Linked DNA regions of Homo sapiens: region 1 is linked to region 2. Evidence: fine-mapped expression QTL. Tissue or cell type: whole blood. Region 2 holds a variant in brackets; the other region holds the start of a gene. All regions are shown on one strand. Distances are from middle to middle.

What was found. PIP is the estimated chance that this variant, and not a neighbour inherited with it, causes the effect.
Region 1: it holds the start of S1PR3, and the variant in region 2 is fine-mapped to the expression of S1PR3 in whole blood (INTERVAL, PIP 0.98).

Annotation. Positions count from the first base shown.
Region 1 is chr9:88,986,500-88,994,684 of GRCh38, forward strand. S1PR3 (sphingosine-1-phosphate receptor 3) reads left to right here and starts at 4,969. Exons shown (of 2, transcript NM_005226.4): 1 at 4,969-5,196. RefSeq lists a silencer at 4,515-4,809.
Region 2 is chr9:88,897,531-88,905,715 of GRCh38, forward strand. The region is part of intron 3 of LOC124902205 (a long non-coding RNA gene); the gene reads left to right. Among named protein-coding and RNA genes, the nearest start is that of S1PR3, 90 kb to the right of the region's middle. The variant A/AT (reference allele first, on the strand shown) is at 4,132.

The DNA of each region.
Region 1 (8,185 bases), 89 kb after region 2:
ATTACAAACATCATTACAAAATATGAAATGTACAAAGAACAATTCCCGGTGGCTCATGCTTGTAATCCCAGAACTTTGGGAAGCCGAGGCAGGTAGATCACCCGAGGTCAGGAGTTCAAGACTAGCCTGATCAACATGGTGAAACCCCGTCTCTATTAAAAAATACAAAAATTAGCCAGGCACAGTGGTGGGCGCCTGTAATCCCAGCTACTCAGGAGGCTGAGGCAGGAGAATTGCTTGAACCCAGGAGGCGGAGGTTGCAGTGAGCTGAGATTACACCATTGCACTCCAGCCTGGGCAACAGAGCAAGCCTCCGTCTTAAAAAAAAAAAAAAGGAACAATTCCTGAAGCTTCTGATGATTTCTGGCTGACCATGAGGTTGGAAGTGGGAACACATTAAGGGCTTAATGATGGGACACAGTGATGTAACCACTGTGGAGCCACAATTGAAGTGCTGAGATTCAGCATTGGAAGACATCTCTGTCACCAAATGAACACGCCTCCCTAAAGAGCTCTGGCAGTGAGTCAAAGGCTTCATTTGGGTCAAGACAGAGTTATTATACAAAAAGCCAAGTTTCATTCTACAAATCCACATCGGGGTCAATATTTTAAAGTGATTTCCCCCAAGTTCTGTGTAGAGCAAGCTGACAGAGAAGAAATGGCTCTGAGATATCTGGCAAGGTGCAGATGGACTGACCACAAGCCGCTTATCCCCACTGTAGCTCCGGGCTCCCTTCTGCCACAGTGGCCATATCTGTGAGGTTCTGCCCTTTCCCTGGGGCCACTGCATCAGTCAGGGCTCTCCAGAGAAACGGAATCCACAGGAGGTATACCTATAGCATACACAAAGGCTTTATTATAAGGAATTGGCCCATGCAATTATGGAAGCTGACACATCCAATGTCTATAGGTCCAAGGTCCCAGTTCCAGTCCTAAGAGGATTCTCCTAGTTAGAGACTTCTCTCTAACTAGGGAGAGTGTTGGCTTTTTGTCTTCAATAACAGTCTACTCAGGCCCTCAACTAATTGGGTGAGGCTCACCCACACTAGGAAGGGCCATCTGCTCTCCTCAGTCTACTGACTCACTTGTCAATCTCATCCAGAAACCCCCTCACAGACACATTCAGAATAATGTTTGACCACATATCTGGGCACCCCATGCCCCAGTCAAGTTCACACATACAATTAACCATCATAACTATCTGTTAGACCCCACCTTGCAGGGGGCAGTCCTCCTCTGGAAACCTTCAGGACTTGAAGTGTCAAGCTCATGTGTGCAAACTGTGACCAACACACATTTTCCTGAGAAGAGGCCTCAGACAAACAAAAAAATATCATGCATGCACATTTACTCAGATAATGACTGTCTGTTGCAGCCTTTACGCTAAACAGAGCTAAGAGTAGAGATAGTGCAGATTAACTCAGACCCAGAAACTTGGGGAGGCACCCTGGGATCCTGGAAGCAGATGCTGGGAGGGCAGAGGGGACCGAGAAAGGAGGTGCATTTACTCAGCTCTTCTGAGACAATTCTGCTCTCCTGCGGTGCACTCGTTCTGCTGGAGAAAGGGCTCACTTTGAGTTTGAATCTTAAAACTGCATGTCCTTTAACCACACTGTACCTGCTCACCAGGCTGTGGACACTAAATTGTTGGGAAAGTGAATATATTTCATTTTTTTAATTAAAAAAGCATGTAAGGTTATATTACATAATTGTGATATATAATACATTTATTCAAATCATATTTAAGTTTGGGGCCACATGATTTTCAAAAGTATACAGATATAACTCATAGTATCTTTCAATTTTATTCCCATAAGCCTAGATTTGATTTAAAGTCTAAGCGCAAAGGTAGAGAAATTTTTTAGTTGTTTAGTACCTGCCATTTTATTTTTCTCCAACTTTTTATTATGGAAAAAGTTCAAAGATACAAAGAAGGAGAACAGATTGTACAACCCCTTCCCTAAATCCACCACGTAGAACCAATAATCACCAACCTTTTGTCATATCAGCTTATGTGCACGTACTGTGCTGAACAATTTAAAATAAGTTTTAGACATGAAGACATTTTACCCTTTAATACTTCAGCAGCACCTCCTAAAATTAAAGCCATTCTCCTAAACAAACATTATGCCATTATCACACCTAAAAACATTAACAATAATTCTATACTATCAGTCAATATCCCCTCCAATTTGTAATTTCCTCCAAAATGTTTTTGTGTGCGTGTGTGTGTGCTGATTTGTCCAGCTGGGAGTCAATCCGGATTTGTACTTATTGTTATACTTCTTCTTTTCAGCTGTTCTTATACCAGAAGAATCCTTCACCCCTTTTTCTTGACATTGATTTTTTTTGGAAGAGCTCAGGACTGCAGAATGCCCACACTCTGGTAGTCCAGTTTTTCCCATGGTGTCATTTAACTCATGGCTCAAACTCTTCCATTTCCTGTAAACTTGCAGTAAAGTCTAGAGGCTTTGCAATTGATTCAATTGAAGCATCTTTGGCAAGCACACAGCAACAATGATGTTGTGTGTTTCTTTTGCATCACATAATGCCAGGTTGAGCCAGTATTAGTGACACTGAGTTTGATCTTCCTGTAAGGTACAGCCAGATGTCTCCATAAAAAAATGGAAAATGGAAAACCTTTTTCTTTTTTTTTTCCAATTAGCACCCGTTCGCCTGCACACTTTCACCTAAGGGTTTGACACCCACTAGTGCACACTGCCTGATTTAATTATTTCATTAAGGGTTACAGAATGGGGATTTCCTCATTCTCGCATTTCTACGTTTATGAGCTGGCATTCTTCTGTTAAACTGCTTTCACTTGTGAAACAGGATGCAGAGGAGGAGACTTATTCAACAGAATTGTAGGGAGGGCTGTTTCTCTCAAAAGGAGTGGTGAGAGAAGATGGTCTCTACCGGGGCATGGAGGGCTCCTTGTCAGAGTCTAGTGTCTGAGCTTTAAGGCCCAGGAAGAGGGCAGCAGATGGGGGTGGGGCAGTGGGTGAGTGAGAGGCCCGTGTGTGGGGAGACCCACTGAGGACAGGGATCTTTAGGCAAACGGAGCCTCACTGAAAGAGGAATTTCAGTGATGCCATGGGTCAGATCCTGGGTCTCTCTTAGGGAAACCTGCCATAAAGCATGAGAGCCACATTACTCCTCAGGGCTTCTGGGCTCCGATTCCGCAGACTAGTTTTGGAGGCATCACCACGCCTCAAGGTTGCTCTGTTATATCAGGGTAACTGACTTTCTCTAGGAACGGAGACTTGGGTGCCCCTTAAAACAACCCTCAGCCAGTATCCTAGCAGTAAATTTTTCATCACGGGAAGCAACTAATTGAACAGAGGTGTGATGAACCTACTGACCACTTTGGTAATATAGACACAGTGGCCACAGTATGCTGTATTGTTATCCTGGTTGTGACCAATGCCAAAGGAGCATGTTTCCTTCTTTTCTTGACTTGATGCTGTAGGAGTCCAACAAAGGGAAGCACATTCAGGCCCACATGAAACTTGGGACAGAAGTGGCTTCTCAGAGCCGTGCACCAGGCACTTTGAACAAGTTGGAAGGCTACAGTGCCGGAAGACTCCACAGTAGCACAGGCGAAGTGGCTTAGGCGAAAACGCTGGGAAGTACCCCAGCTCCCGGGGGCCAGAGCCTCTAGGGCTGGCAGCCTCAGCAGGCAGAGTCACTTGCCTCCTTCAGCTCAATTGCTGAGGGCTTGCGTTTCTCTGCAGGGAACAGGAGTGCCGCCGACTTCCACTCTTGGTGCCCTTCACCGCTCAAACTGCACCCCAAATAAGCGTATGCACCCTGCTCCAAGAGAAGGATGCGCTGGGCTGATCCTCTGGAGGCAAGAGGGCAAAAGACAGAAAGTAACGAGCGGCCTTTGCACAAACTCAACTCTCTGCAGCGGCCCCTGCGGCCCAATCCTGCCGGCCCAGGAATGCACGGTCGGATAACAGGCCTCTCCTTGCTTTTTCGTCTTCTTCCTCCCGCTTCTCTCCTCTCTCCTTTTCCTCCTCCTCCTTTTTCTTTAATTTTCTCCTTTCTCCCCAAGCTTCTACAGTTGTTTCTGTGTTCGCTCAATCATGGCCTTTGGCATTGATTGAAAATTTGGCAGTTCCTTCTCTCGGAATTCTGTTTGAAGCCTTCATATGGATTTATTATTATTATTATTATTTTTGCCACACAAAAGGGGCAAATCCGCGTGAGGAAGGGGGTCGCATGGGGGTCGGCTGAGATCTGCTGGCTGCCGGTCTAGGAGGGGCGCTGCTCTGTGCCGGAGTGGGCTCTGGTGCACCAGCAGAGGCTGGGGGAGAGTGCTGCCCCCGCCTGGAGCCCAAGTCTCTGCGTGCCTGGGGGTAGAGCGCGGAGAGGGACCAGGCAGGCGCCGGAGGGGACCCGCGCGGAAAAGGAAGAAGCCCAAACAAAAACGCTGTCCGGCGCCAGGCGCCCACCTGCAAGCCCAAGCCGGTGCTCGGCCAGTTACAAAAGAAATGGTCAGGATCTGGACAACGATAATGATAGTATTAATCCTCCTATTAAGAATCGGCCCAAACAAACCCTCGCTGTCAGGGCGACAGGCGCCCGCCCAAGCCCAGACCTCGGACCTGGTTCCAAGCCTGTTCCCGCTGGGTCTCTGGGCGCCCGGTTTCTGCACCTGGAGCTCGCCCGATGAGGACAAGGTCTGGAGGCCGGCCTGGGAACAGGGGCCGAAGGGCGAGCCGGACCCTAGGGGATTGGTAGGGTCGGGGAGAAGGGGTCCAGGCTAGGGGCGGGCGGGGCGCACGGAGACCAGGCGGCTTGAGCGGGAGGTGGGGAGCTGGAGGAGTGCCGGGTTCGCGGGCGGGGGACGGGGAGAGGGGGGCGGGGAGAGGGGCGGGAGTCGGGGGCGGCGAGGGGAGGGGCGGAGCGCGGGTCCCGCCCCGGCGGGCCGCTGGAAAAGTTTAGTCTCTGACTCGCTCGGGCAGAGGCCGAGGAAGCCGGTTCCGGGGACGGGCAACAGGGACTCAGGGACCAGAAGGCGGCTGCAGGACGCGACCGAGCAGGACCCCAGGCCCGGGAACGACGTCGCGAGCGCTGAGACTGCCGGGCCTCCCAGCCCATCTGGCATTCGAGCGCAGGACCGGGCGCCCCGGCACCGCCGCGCGCCACCCGCTAGGATGCCGGTGGCCCCAGCGCCCTCAGCCGACGGAGGTGAGAGGCGGGCCCGGGCGGGGCGCGGAACCAGGGTGGGGGGCTGGGGGCCGAAGGACCCACCTTTCCAACAAAATCCCCACCGATCCCGGGCGCGACGGGGACTTGGGCGCGCCACGGCGGCCGGAGCGCTCCACATCAGCACCCCTCCCCCAGAGCCGCTGCAGGAACAGGGAGGAGGCCTTTTCCACCGCACCCGGAGCGTTTACAACGGGCTGGAGCTGAATACCTGGATGAAAGTGGAGAGGCTGTTCGTGGAGAAGTTCCATCAGTCGTTTTCCTTGGACAATTAACAAGTTAGGCTTCCACAGTGCCAGGGCCTGGGGATGCTGGACGTGGGAGAGGGTTGTGGTCGTTAGCCTGGGAAAATCATTCTTTTAAACAATATTCGCCGGAAAATTAGTTTTTTCCTAACATTTCTCAAACAAGGCAATTAGGGCCGTCAGAATCGGTGCTGGAAGACGAAGTCCCCACAGTGCAATAATGAGGTTCCCACGGAAAATCAGTACGTTGTGTTCGTAACTGAGATAACAGCTAGAGAAGGGGCTTTGGGCTTTTTGAGTCTCCCAATAGTCAGTCTCTCTCTCTCTCTCTCTCTCTCTCTTCCTCTGACTTTCTGGCTTTGGACACTCCCAATGGTATATTTCTTTGTGGTGTTTTTATATTTGGATATAAGAGAGGAACTTCTTGTTGGATTTTTAAGGGAACACACTTCGTTTTGACCCTTCCAATAAGGAAAGGGGAGCTACAGGAACAGAGAGCTCTTTAGAAGGTTACTTTTAAATGGAGGCCCCCCCATTCATGGTACCCACTCCCACTTGGACCTCTGAGACCTCCAGAATTAGGCATCATTCTAAAATCTGGACATTAGAAGTCACAGACTTTGTATATAACCACATATTCATAATTTATCTTTTCAATGTTTTTTATTCATAGATGAAAATCTTGCAGGCATAGTTAAGAAAAATATAATTCCTAGAAAGTACAAGGGAAGGATTATGCTCTGCAGATACATGACTAACAAGGATAGCTGGCCATGCCCAGGGCTGGTGTTGGTTGAGGAGGTGGTGATGGTGCGGGGCATGTGTGTGTGTGTGTGTGTGTGCGCTTGAGGAGTTGTGGAAGTGTTCATATCTGTAAAGTATTATTTCATGGATGCAGACCTTAATGCTAGGTTGAATAACTTTGTTGCCATAGAAGAAGAACCGCACGTCAGGCTTTTTTCATTAGCAAACCAGTAAGCACTCACTTTGGGCCTCTGAAATCACTTCCATCACCTAACACCAGAGATACAAACTGAAGCTAGCCCTTAAGAGCCTCCCCCTAAGATTTAGAGAGAATGATTTCTCAACCAGTTTTCATCTTTGAAAGTGCCATTTCTCCCTTTATCATTGTGATTTTTATTCAAATGCATGAGTCTCTGATTTTCTACCATATACAAAGGGTAGAGACTACAGTTTCCTATAGAAGAAACTTCACATAGTGGCCGAAGGATCTTATTTCTCAAAATTCAGGAACTGGTTTCCTCTTTCTGGAAATTATGACATTAACTTGATTTCATGGTATCTCTTTCATCTTCCTCAATGCCTGTGCTGTATGTATATTTTTATTATATACTGTAGGTATATTTTTATTACCAAAAAAAGGAGAATTTGAGCATGCCACAATCTTGAAAAATCTGAGGTTGCCCTGCTGTAGAACCCTTTAACTGCCAGGACTTTGTACTGTTTCCCAAGTGTTACCAGAGCCAGGCCGCCAGCCTTATGCAGTCTGTTTACCTTAGCTGGAACCAGGGTGCTGTGCTGTGGGTTCTATGAAACTTTCTGTTTCTTCATATTTGGCTTTGTAATTCCTTTCTTATCAGTTTTGGAGGCATTTCCTATTATTCCTCTGCCATATGTTTTCTGCCAAATTAATTGCCTTAAGATTTTCCTTAAGCTTTTGGAAATGTATAATGTTTGAGAAAAAAGAAAAAGAATAGACTGAGTGGAATCGTATCTAGTTTCAGTTAATAACATGTTTCAGTTGATGTTACTGTTATAGCTACTGGGCATAAAGTCTCCTTCCCTTTTTTGAATCCTATTTTTGAGGCATTGAAGCTGTGTCTGTAAGAGACAATAGGCCAGTTGGGTTAAATCAGTGACGAGATTGTCCAGTGCAGATTGGTGCCCAGTGAGTGGATCTTCACTGCTCACAGGCCGGACTGGGGTCAGCTCACACAGCGAGGTGACGGTCCGCTCCTCAAGCAGTGGATGGTGCTCTTCGGCCTTGCAGATGCCGCTCCATTTTCCTGGCTTCAAAATTTTCCAGATATTTCAGTGCCCCCAGAATGACATGCTAACATTCTGCTGGCATGGGAGCATGAGGCAGTTTGTCTCTAAAACATGCCAGAGAATCTCTTGTCACTACCTAGGCAAAGAACCAGTGGCAAGGTGGCAGCCTCCCAAAGAGCTCATCCCTAATGTGACATCCTGGAATCAGATGGCACGGACACCGGCCCAGCCCCTTCCCAGCTCTGTGACTAAGGACAAGTGACACCCCCCCTCCCCCAGCCTCGGTCTCCTCCTGTGTACATTCAGAAGGCAGATGCTGCCATGAGGCCATGTGTGCTATGTCCATGGTGCAAGGTGGCACGCATGCCGAGTCACCAGGTGAGACTGCCGCTTTGGGAAGGGATAGGAAGGATCTCCGGTAGCCTTCGTGGGCAGGATGCCTCTTATTTGAATGTGCCTTTAGCCACCTCACAGAGCCTATTTCCACATCCCTGTGGATTCATCCCTGTGGAAATCTTGAGAATCATTTATCCTATGCTGTCATGAAGCAGCAGCAGAATGGAGAAGGTTTAAAAAGACTCATGGACAGGCAAAGCGGTCAAACACCTCCTGGCTCAGACGCACTTGCCTTCCCACACACAAGTCTGGAAGCTCAGGATGGTGTTCACGGAGGCAGATGCTCGGGGCCGGGGCCTGAGTTTCCTGGGGCACAGCCT
Region 2 (8,185 bases):
CTTTACCTTCAGGCAACAAGAGACGCACCTGAGAAACATAAATGCTCACTTCCTGCAAGCATTGGACAGGTATGAGCTAAGAAATGGTGACCTTGATAGGGAATAAAATGAGTAGGTCCTCTTTGAAGAAATGCTGCATACTGAACCCAGAGTCCAAAAAAAGATGTTTCATAAAACAAATTAAGGGAACACAGCATCATGCCAATCATTAAAAAGACAAAGGCATTTTCCCATAGAAACTAGGAGTAAGAAATATTCTAGCAAATTCAGAAATTTAAAAGAGCATCCATCCCTGAACATGATTTCTGATTCACTGATAGTTGCCCATAAATATTATTTTATTTTCCTTTGCAAATTATCTTAAACATTGATATCTTTTTTTGATATCTTGATAGCTCTTGTTTGAGAAAACATATGAACTGTAATTGCATTAAGCCATAAATAGTGACAGACATTACAAAATAATTGTTTTAACCAAGAAGTGATGATGTTAGGTATTGGCTAAAAGGCGGGGGGTTCAGAAAATAACTTTCAAAACAGTTCAATTTTTTAAAAATACACATATATGGTCGTGTGAAAGAGAAAAAATATCAGTGGCTCCAGTCAGGGTGTTAATGAGAAGCTAGGTCCAACATAATTCAAAACAATGATCAGCCAAGCAAATTAAAGACTGCCTGACTCATCCTTCACAAGCAGATATCAATCACTGGGTGAGATCTCTGCTCCACGTGGGTGAGATCTCTGCTCCACGTGGCTGAAAAACATGGGTCAAAAAGAGTCATGTGCTGGTTAATCTGACATAGGGGACCACCCACAAATACTTTACATTTTGCTCTGGTATGTATAATGTAATTTTATGCAGCTTAATTTCTATTTTGTAATGAATAATATATTCTCATGGTTCAAAGCTTAAAAATAAAAAACAGTGAATGGAGAAGAATCTCCTGCTCCATCTGTGCTCAGCTGCAGTGCTTTTTCTCCCCAGAGGCAGGCTGTGTTATGTATTATGCATCTACCCAGCACTAGTGTGTGCACATCTGTGTGCACATATACATTTATATGTGGATATGCAAATATATACAAATGCTCCTTGACTTACAATGGAGTTATGTCCCAATAAACCCATCATAAGTTGAAAATCTCCTACGTCAAAAATGCACTTAATACACCTAACCTAATGATAATCATAGCTTGGACTAGCCTACCTTAAACATGCTCAGAACACTTCCCTTAGCCTGCAGTTGGGCCAAGTTGTCTAACACAAAGCCTATTTCACAATACAGTGTTGACTGTCTCTTGCAATTGATTGAATATTGTATGGAAAGCGAAAAGCAGAATGATTGTATGGATACTCCAAGTACAATTTCTACTGAACGCATATATTGTTTTCACACCACCCAAAAGTCAAAACTAAGTTGAACCATTGTAAATTGGGGACTGTCTGTACATGCTCTTCCACCTCTCACTTTTTCACACAAGCAGTAGCCTACTTTACCAACTATTCCGGACTTTGCTTTTTTCACTTAATATACCCCCTAGATTGTTTCTAATCACAAGTGAAGCAGTTCCTCATTATTTTTAAAAGTCAAATAGAATTCCATTAATAGTATATGCCATATCCATTAATTAATGTTTCAACAGATCCTTTGCTATTAAACACTACAATGCAGTGTGTAATCTTGACTTAACTCACTTCATAGTTGTAATTTTTTATTTGCATATAGTCAGTGTTATTGTTTTGCATTTTACATTTAGGTCTGTGATACATCTGAGGGTTTCTTTTTCTGTAAAAGTATACGATCTATGTCTAGAATCCTCTTATTTTTTGCATGTGGATGTCTAATTATTCTATGACCATTTGTTGAAAACCATATCCTTTTCCCATTGAATTATCTTGTTCTTTTGTCAAATATCAGTTGTCTATATTTGTGTGGGTCCATTTCTGAACTTTCTATTCTGTTCCACTGATCTTTCACCAATGCCACACTGTCTTGACTGTTATAGTTTTATGTGAAGATGGATAGTATTAGTCCTCTATTTTTTTTTCTTTAATATTGTGTTTGCTATTCTAGGTATATTGTCTCTCCAGTAAAACTTGGCAATAAGTTTGTTGATATTCACAAAGTAAATGCTGAGATTTTGATTGGGATTGCATTGAATCTATAGATAAAATTGATAAGAAGGGACATCTTGACAGTATTGAGCTTCCCTATCTATGAACATGGAGTACCTCTCCATTTGTTTAGTTTTTTGATTCCTTTCACCACAGTTTTGTAGTTTCTCTTATAAAGATCAGTGCACATTTTGTTAGATTTATACCTGAATATTTCATATTTTGAGCTAATGTAAATGGTATTAAAGTTTTTATTTCATATTCCAATTGTAATTGCTCATGTATGGGAAAACAATTGGCTTTGTATATAAATCTTGTATCCTGAAAGCTAGCTACAATCACATGTTAGTTTCAGGAGATTTTTGTCAGTTGTATAGGATTTTATACATAGACAATCATGTCATCTACAAACAAAAATCGTTTTATTTCTTGCTTCTTCCAATCTGTGTACCTTTTATTTACCAAATATCCTTTTTTTTTGTCTTAGTGCATTAGCTAAGACTTCCAGTATTATGCTGCATAGGAGTGATGAGAGGGGACATCATTGTCATTCCTGATTTTAGCAGGAAAGCTTCTAGTTTGTCAAGAATAATGCTAGCTGTGGGTTCTATTTTATTTTGCTAATATTCTTTATTAAGTTTAAGAAGTTCCTCACTATCCCTAATTTGCTGAGAATTTTTATCATAAATGGGTGTCAGATTTTGTCAAATACTTTCTCTACATCTATTGATATGATCATGTGATTTCTCTTCTTTAGCTGGTGGATGTAATGGATTGCACTAATTGATTTTTAAATATTGATCCAGACTTATATACCTGGAATAAATCCAACTTGATTATGTTATACGATTCTTTTTATACATTGTTGGGTTCGATTTTCTAACATTTTATTGAGAATTTTTGCATCTATTTCATGAGAGATATTGGTCTGTAGTTTATTTTTTCTTGTAATGTCATTATCTGGTTTTGATATTTGGATAATGCTAGTCTCATAGAATGAATTAGAAACTATTCTCTCTATTTCTATCTTCTGGGAAAGATTGTAGAGAATCAGTATTATTTTTTACCTAACTATTTTACAAAATTCACCAGTAAACTCATCCAAGTCTGGTACTTTATGTCTTGAAAATTATTAATTATTGATTTAATTTCTTGAATTGATATAGATCTACTTAGATAACATATTTCTTTTTTTGTGGGTTTTGGAAGTGTCTTAGTGGCACTTAGGTGCCAGCAGGTTTGGTGTCTGGGGGGGGCTGTTCTCTACTTCCAAGATGATGCCTTGCACACCATATATTCCAGACTGAAGGAACACTGTGTTCTTACATGACAGAAGGCAGAAGAGCAAAAAGAGACAAACTTCCTCCTCCAAGCCCTTCTATGAGGGCACCTAATCCCATCCACAAGAGGTGACCTCTCATGGCCTAATCATTTCTTAAGGGCCCACCTCCTAATACTATCACATTGACAGCACCTGAATTTTGGAGGAGACATATTAGAACAATAGCAGGAAGATTATCCCTTTCAAGGAATTGGCCAAATAGGATGGAATTGGTCCATCAACTAGGTCATCAAATTTGTGAGTATAGTTTATAATATTCTTTTAATATCCTTTAACATCCATGGGATCAGTAGTGATAACCCCTCTTTCATTTGTGGTATGAGTTGCTTGTATCTGCTCTCTTTTTTAATTGGTTAGCCTGGCTCGAGCTTTATCAATTTTATTGATCTTTTCAAAGAATGAGTTTATGGTTTCATTAATTTTTCACTTGACTTCCTGTTTTGAATTTTTTTAATTTCATCGATTTCTGCTTTTATTTTCTACTTTTCTTCAGCTTTCTTTGGAGTTAACCTGCTCTGCTTTTTCTAATTTTCTAAGGCAAAAGCACTGATTATTTTTAAAAATTTTTCTCCCTTTCCATTATATGGATTAAATGCCATGAATTTCCTTCGAAACATTGCTTTTGCTGCTTCCCACAAGTTTTTGTTTGTTTGTGTTTGTTTGTTTGTTTGTTTTT[A/AT]TTTTTTTTTTGATGAAGTCTCGCTCTTTCGCCCTAGCTGGAGTGCAGTGGCTGGATCTTGGTTCACTATAATCTCCGCCTCCCAGGTTCAAGAGATTCTCCTGCCTCAGCCTTCCAAGTAACTGGGATTGCAGGTACGCCCCACCATGCCTGGCTAATTTTTGTATTTTTAGTAGAGAGGGGGTTTCGCTATGTTCGCCATGTTGGTCTCGAACTCCTGGCCTCAGGTGATCTGCCCAACTCGGCCTCCCAAAGTGCTGGGATTACAGGTGTGAGCCACTGCACCTGGCACACAAGTTTTAATTAAGTTGTATTTTCATTTTCATTTAATTAAAAACATTAAAATTTCTCTTCAGATTTTTTTTCTTGGACCCACATGTTATTTAAAACTGTGTTGTTTAATTTCTAAGTATTTTAGGATTTTCCATCTATTTTCTGTTATTAAATTCTACTTTTATTTCATTGTAGTGTGAGAGCAATACATTTTATGATTTTTATTCTTTATATTTGTTATGATGTATTAATATTTTATAGCCCATAATCTGGTTTATCTTGGTGAATGTTCTATGTGAGCTTGAGAAGAATTATATTCTGCTGTTGTTAGATAAGATATTCTATAAAAGTGTATTGAGCTGGGTGCAGTGGTTCATACCTATAATCCCAGCACTTTGGGAGGCCGAAGCAGGCACACCGCTTGAGGACAGGAGTTCGAGACCAGCCCGGCCAACATGGCGAAACCCCGTCTCTACTAAAAATACAAAAATTAGCCAGGCATGGTGGCACACACCTGCAATCCCAGCTACTCAGGAGGCTGAGGCACGAGAATCACTTGAACCTGGGAGGCGGAGGTTGTAGTGAGCCAAGACTGCACCACTGCACTCAGCCTGGGTGACAAAGAGTGAGACTCTGTCTCAAAAAAAAAAAAAAAAGAGTTTATTGTATCCTGCTGACTAATGGTGCTGTTCACTATATCCTTACTGATTTTCTGCTTGCTGGATCTGGTAGTTACTGATAGGGGGATGTTGAATTCTTCACCTTTAATAGTTGATTTGTCTACTTCTCCTTGCAACTTTATCATTTTTTTGTTCATATATTTTGACACTCTGTTGTTAGAGGTGTACTCTTTAAGAATTATTATGTCTTCTTAGAAAAGTGATCCCTTTATTATTATTTAAAACCTTTTTATCCTTAGTAACTTTCCTTGTTCTGAAACCTACTTTGTCTGAAATTAATGTATCTACTCTAGCTTTCTTTTGATTACTATTAGTGTTGTGTATCTTTCTCCATCTCATTACTCTTCTTCTATATGTGTCTTTATTTTTAAAGTGGATGTCTTGTAGATCAGTGGTCCTTAACCTTTTTGGCACCAGGGACCAGTTTTGTGGAACACAATTTTTCCATGGACTTGGGGTGGGGGATAGTTTTGGGCTGAAATTGTTCCACCTCAGATAATCAGGCATTAGAATCTCATAAGGAGCATGCAATCTAGATCACCTGCATGTGCAGTTCACAATAGGGTTCTCACTCCTATGAGAATCTGATGCCTCCATTGATATGACAGGAGGTGGAGCTCAGGTAGTAATGCTCATTTGCCCGCCGCTCACCTCCTGCTGTGTAGCCGTTTCTGACAGGCCATAGCCAGGGGGTTGGGGATGATATGGTTCAGTCCTGTTTTTTATCCACTCAGTCTCTGTTTTTTAATTGGTGTATTTAGATCAGTGACATTTAACTATTGATATAGTTGGATTTATATCTACCGTATTTGTTATTGTTTTCTATTTGTTGCCTTTGTTCTTTGTTTCTATTTTCACCTTCCACTGTTTTTCTGCCTTCTGTAGTTTTATTTTATATGATTCCATTTTCTCTCCTTTCTTTGCATATAAATTACACTTTTTACCTATTTTAGCCGTTGCTGTAGAGCTTACAATATACATTTACAACTACTCTATGTCCATTTTTAGATAACGCTATACTGCTTCACGGGTAACGCGAGTACCTTTTAAGAGCATATTCCCAACCCTTCCCTCTTATCTCTTATATCATTGCTGTTATTCATTTTACTTATCTACAAGCTAAAATCAGCAAACACATTGTTGCTCTTATTTTGAACAAACTGTTATCTGTTAGATCCATTAAGAATAAGAAAAATGCACTTTGGGAGGCCTAGGCGGGGGGATCATGAGGTCAGGAGATCGAGACCATCCTGGCTAACATGGTGAAATGCCATCTCTACTAGAAATACAAAAAAATTAGCCAGGTGTGGTGGCAGGTGCCTGTAGTCCCAGCTACTTGGGAGGCTGAGGCAGGAGAATGGCGTGAACCCGGCAGGTGGAGCTTTCAGTGAGCCGAGATCACGCCACTGCACTCCAGCCTGGGTGACAGAGCAAGACTCCGCTCAAAAAAAAAAAAAAAAAAGAAAATAATAAGAAAAACAAAAGATCTTAGTTTTACCTTTATTTATGCATTCTCTAACATGCTTCCTGTTACATAGATCTAAGTTCCTGACCTATATCACTTTCCTTCTCCCTGAATAACTTCTTTAACATTTCTTGCAAGGTAGGTCTACTGCTGACAAATTCCCTTGATTCTTTATTGTCTGAGAAAGTCTATTTCTCCTTCACTTTTGGAGGATAATTTCACAGAATTCTGGGTTGATAAGTTTTATTCTTCCAACACTTTAAATATTTCACTCCACTTTCTTCTTGCTTGCCTGGTGTCTCAGGAGAAGTTGGACTTAATTCTTATCATTACTCCTCTATAGATGAGATGGTTTGCTCTGCCCCTGGCTCCTTTCAAGACTTTCTTTGTACTTATTTTCTGCAGTTTGGATATAATATGCCTAGGAGTAGATATTTTGGCATTTTTCATTCTTGATATTCTCCAAGCTTCTGGAATCCGTAGTTTCATGTCTGTCTTAATTTTGGGAAATTCTTATTCTTTATTGCTTCAATAATTCTTCTGTTCCTTTCTCTCTTCTTCTGGTGTTCCCATTATTCATATGTTACATCTTTTGTAACTGTCCCACAGTTTCTGGATATTCTGCTCCATTTTCTGAGTCTCTTCTCTTTGCTTTTCAGTTTGTGAAGTTTCTATTGACATATCCTGAAGCTCAGAGATTCTTTCTTCAGCCATGTCTAGACTACTAATGAGACCATCAAAAGCAGTCTTCATTTCTTTATAGTGTTTTTGATCTCTAGTATTTCTTTTTAATTCTTTCTTAGAATTTTCATCTCTCTGTTTACATTACCCATCTATTCTTGCATTTTGCTTACTTTTTCCATTAAAGCTATCATAATATATATCATAGTTCTTTTAACCCTTTTTCCATTTGCCCCAAGAATACTTGCTGGTGGCGCTTGCGACTGCAATGTTTACCCTGAGATGACTTTGCCATGAAATATTATTATTTTCACATTGCTCTAGTATGTCAACTTTGGAAATAAAAGACATCATTCCATTTATAGCATTGTTTTTAGTAGTGGCATTTCCATTTACAAAATATAGTAATTCTCAATCGCTGAAAATGTCAAATCCTAGAAAGCAGCAATCCTACTTGTGATGTTAACATCATTCTCAAGTAGTTGTTGCCTGAAGATTCATTTGATGAATCTGATTTTTCTGAAATAGATGATTCTGATGATTCAGATGATTCTGATGTTAATTCTGTTTAGAAATAATTCCATGAAAAGTTTTTATATTTTATTTTCACAGTGAAAATCAGTCAGATTTGCTTCAGCTTCAAAGAGTGTGTTTATGTAAAAATTAAGTGAGTGCTGGTAGCGAGCTGCCCTTTTTTTTTTTTTCTAAATGGGAAAAGGGTTAAATTCTGGGTCTGATATTTAACCTCTCTACTACATCTGAGTCTGGTTCTGATGCTTGCCTTGTCTCTTCATACTCTATGTGTGGGCATGTATGTGATTTGGGAGTTTGTTTATTTATTTTTGACTTTTAGTATGACTTGTACTATTCCACTGAAAGCCAGACATAATGTACTGGGTGAAAACAATTGTGGTAAATAGGCTTTTCGTGATGTAGCACTAAAGTATGTGGAGTA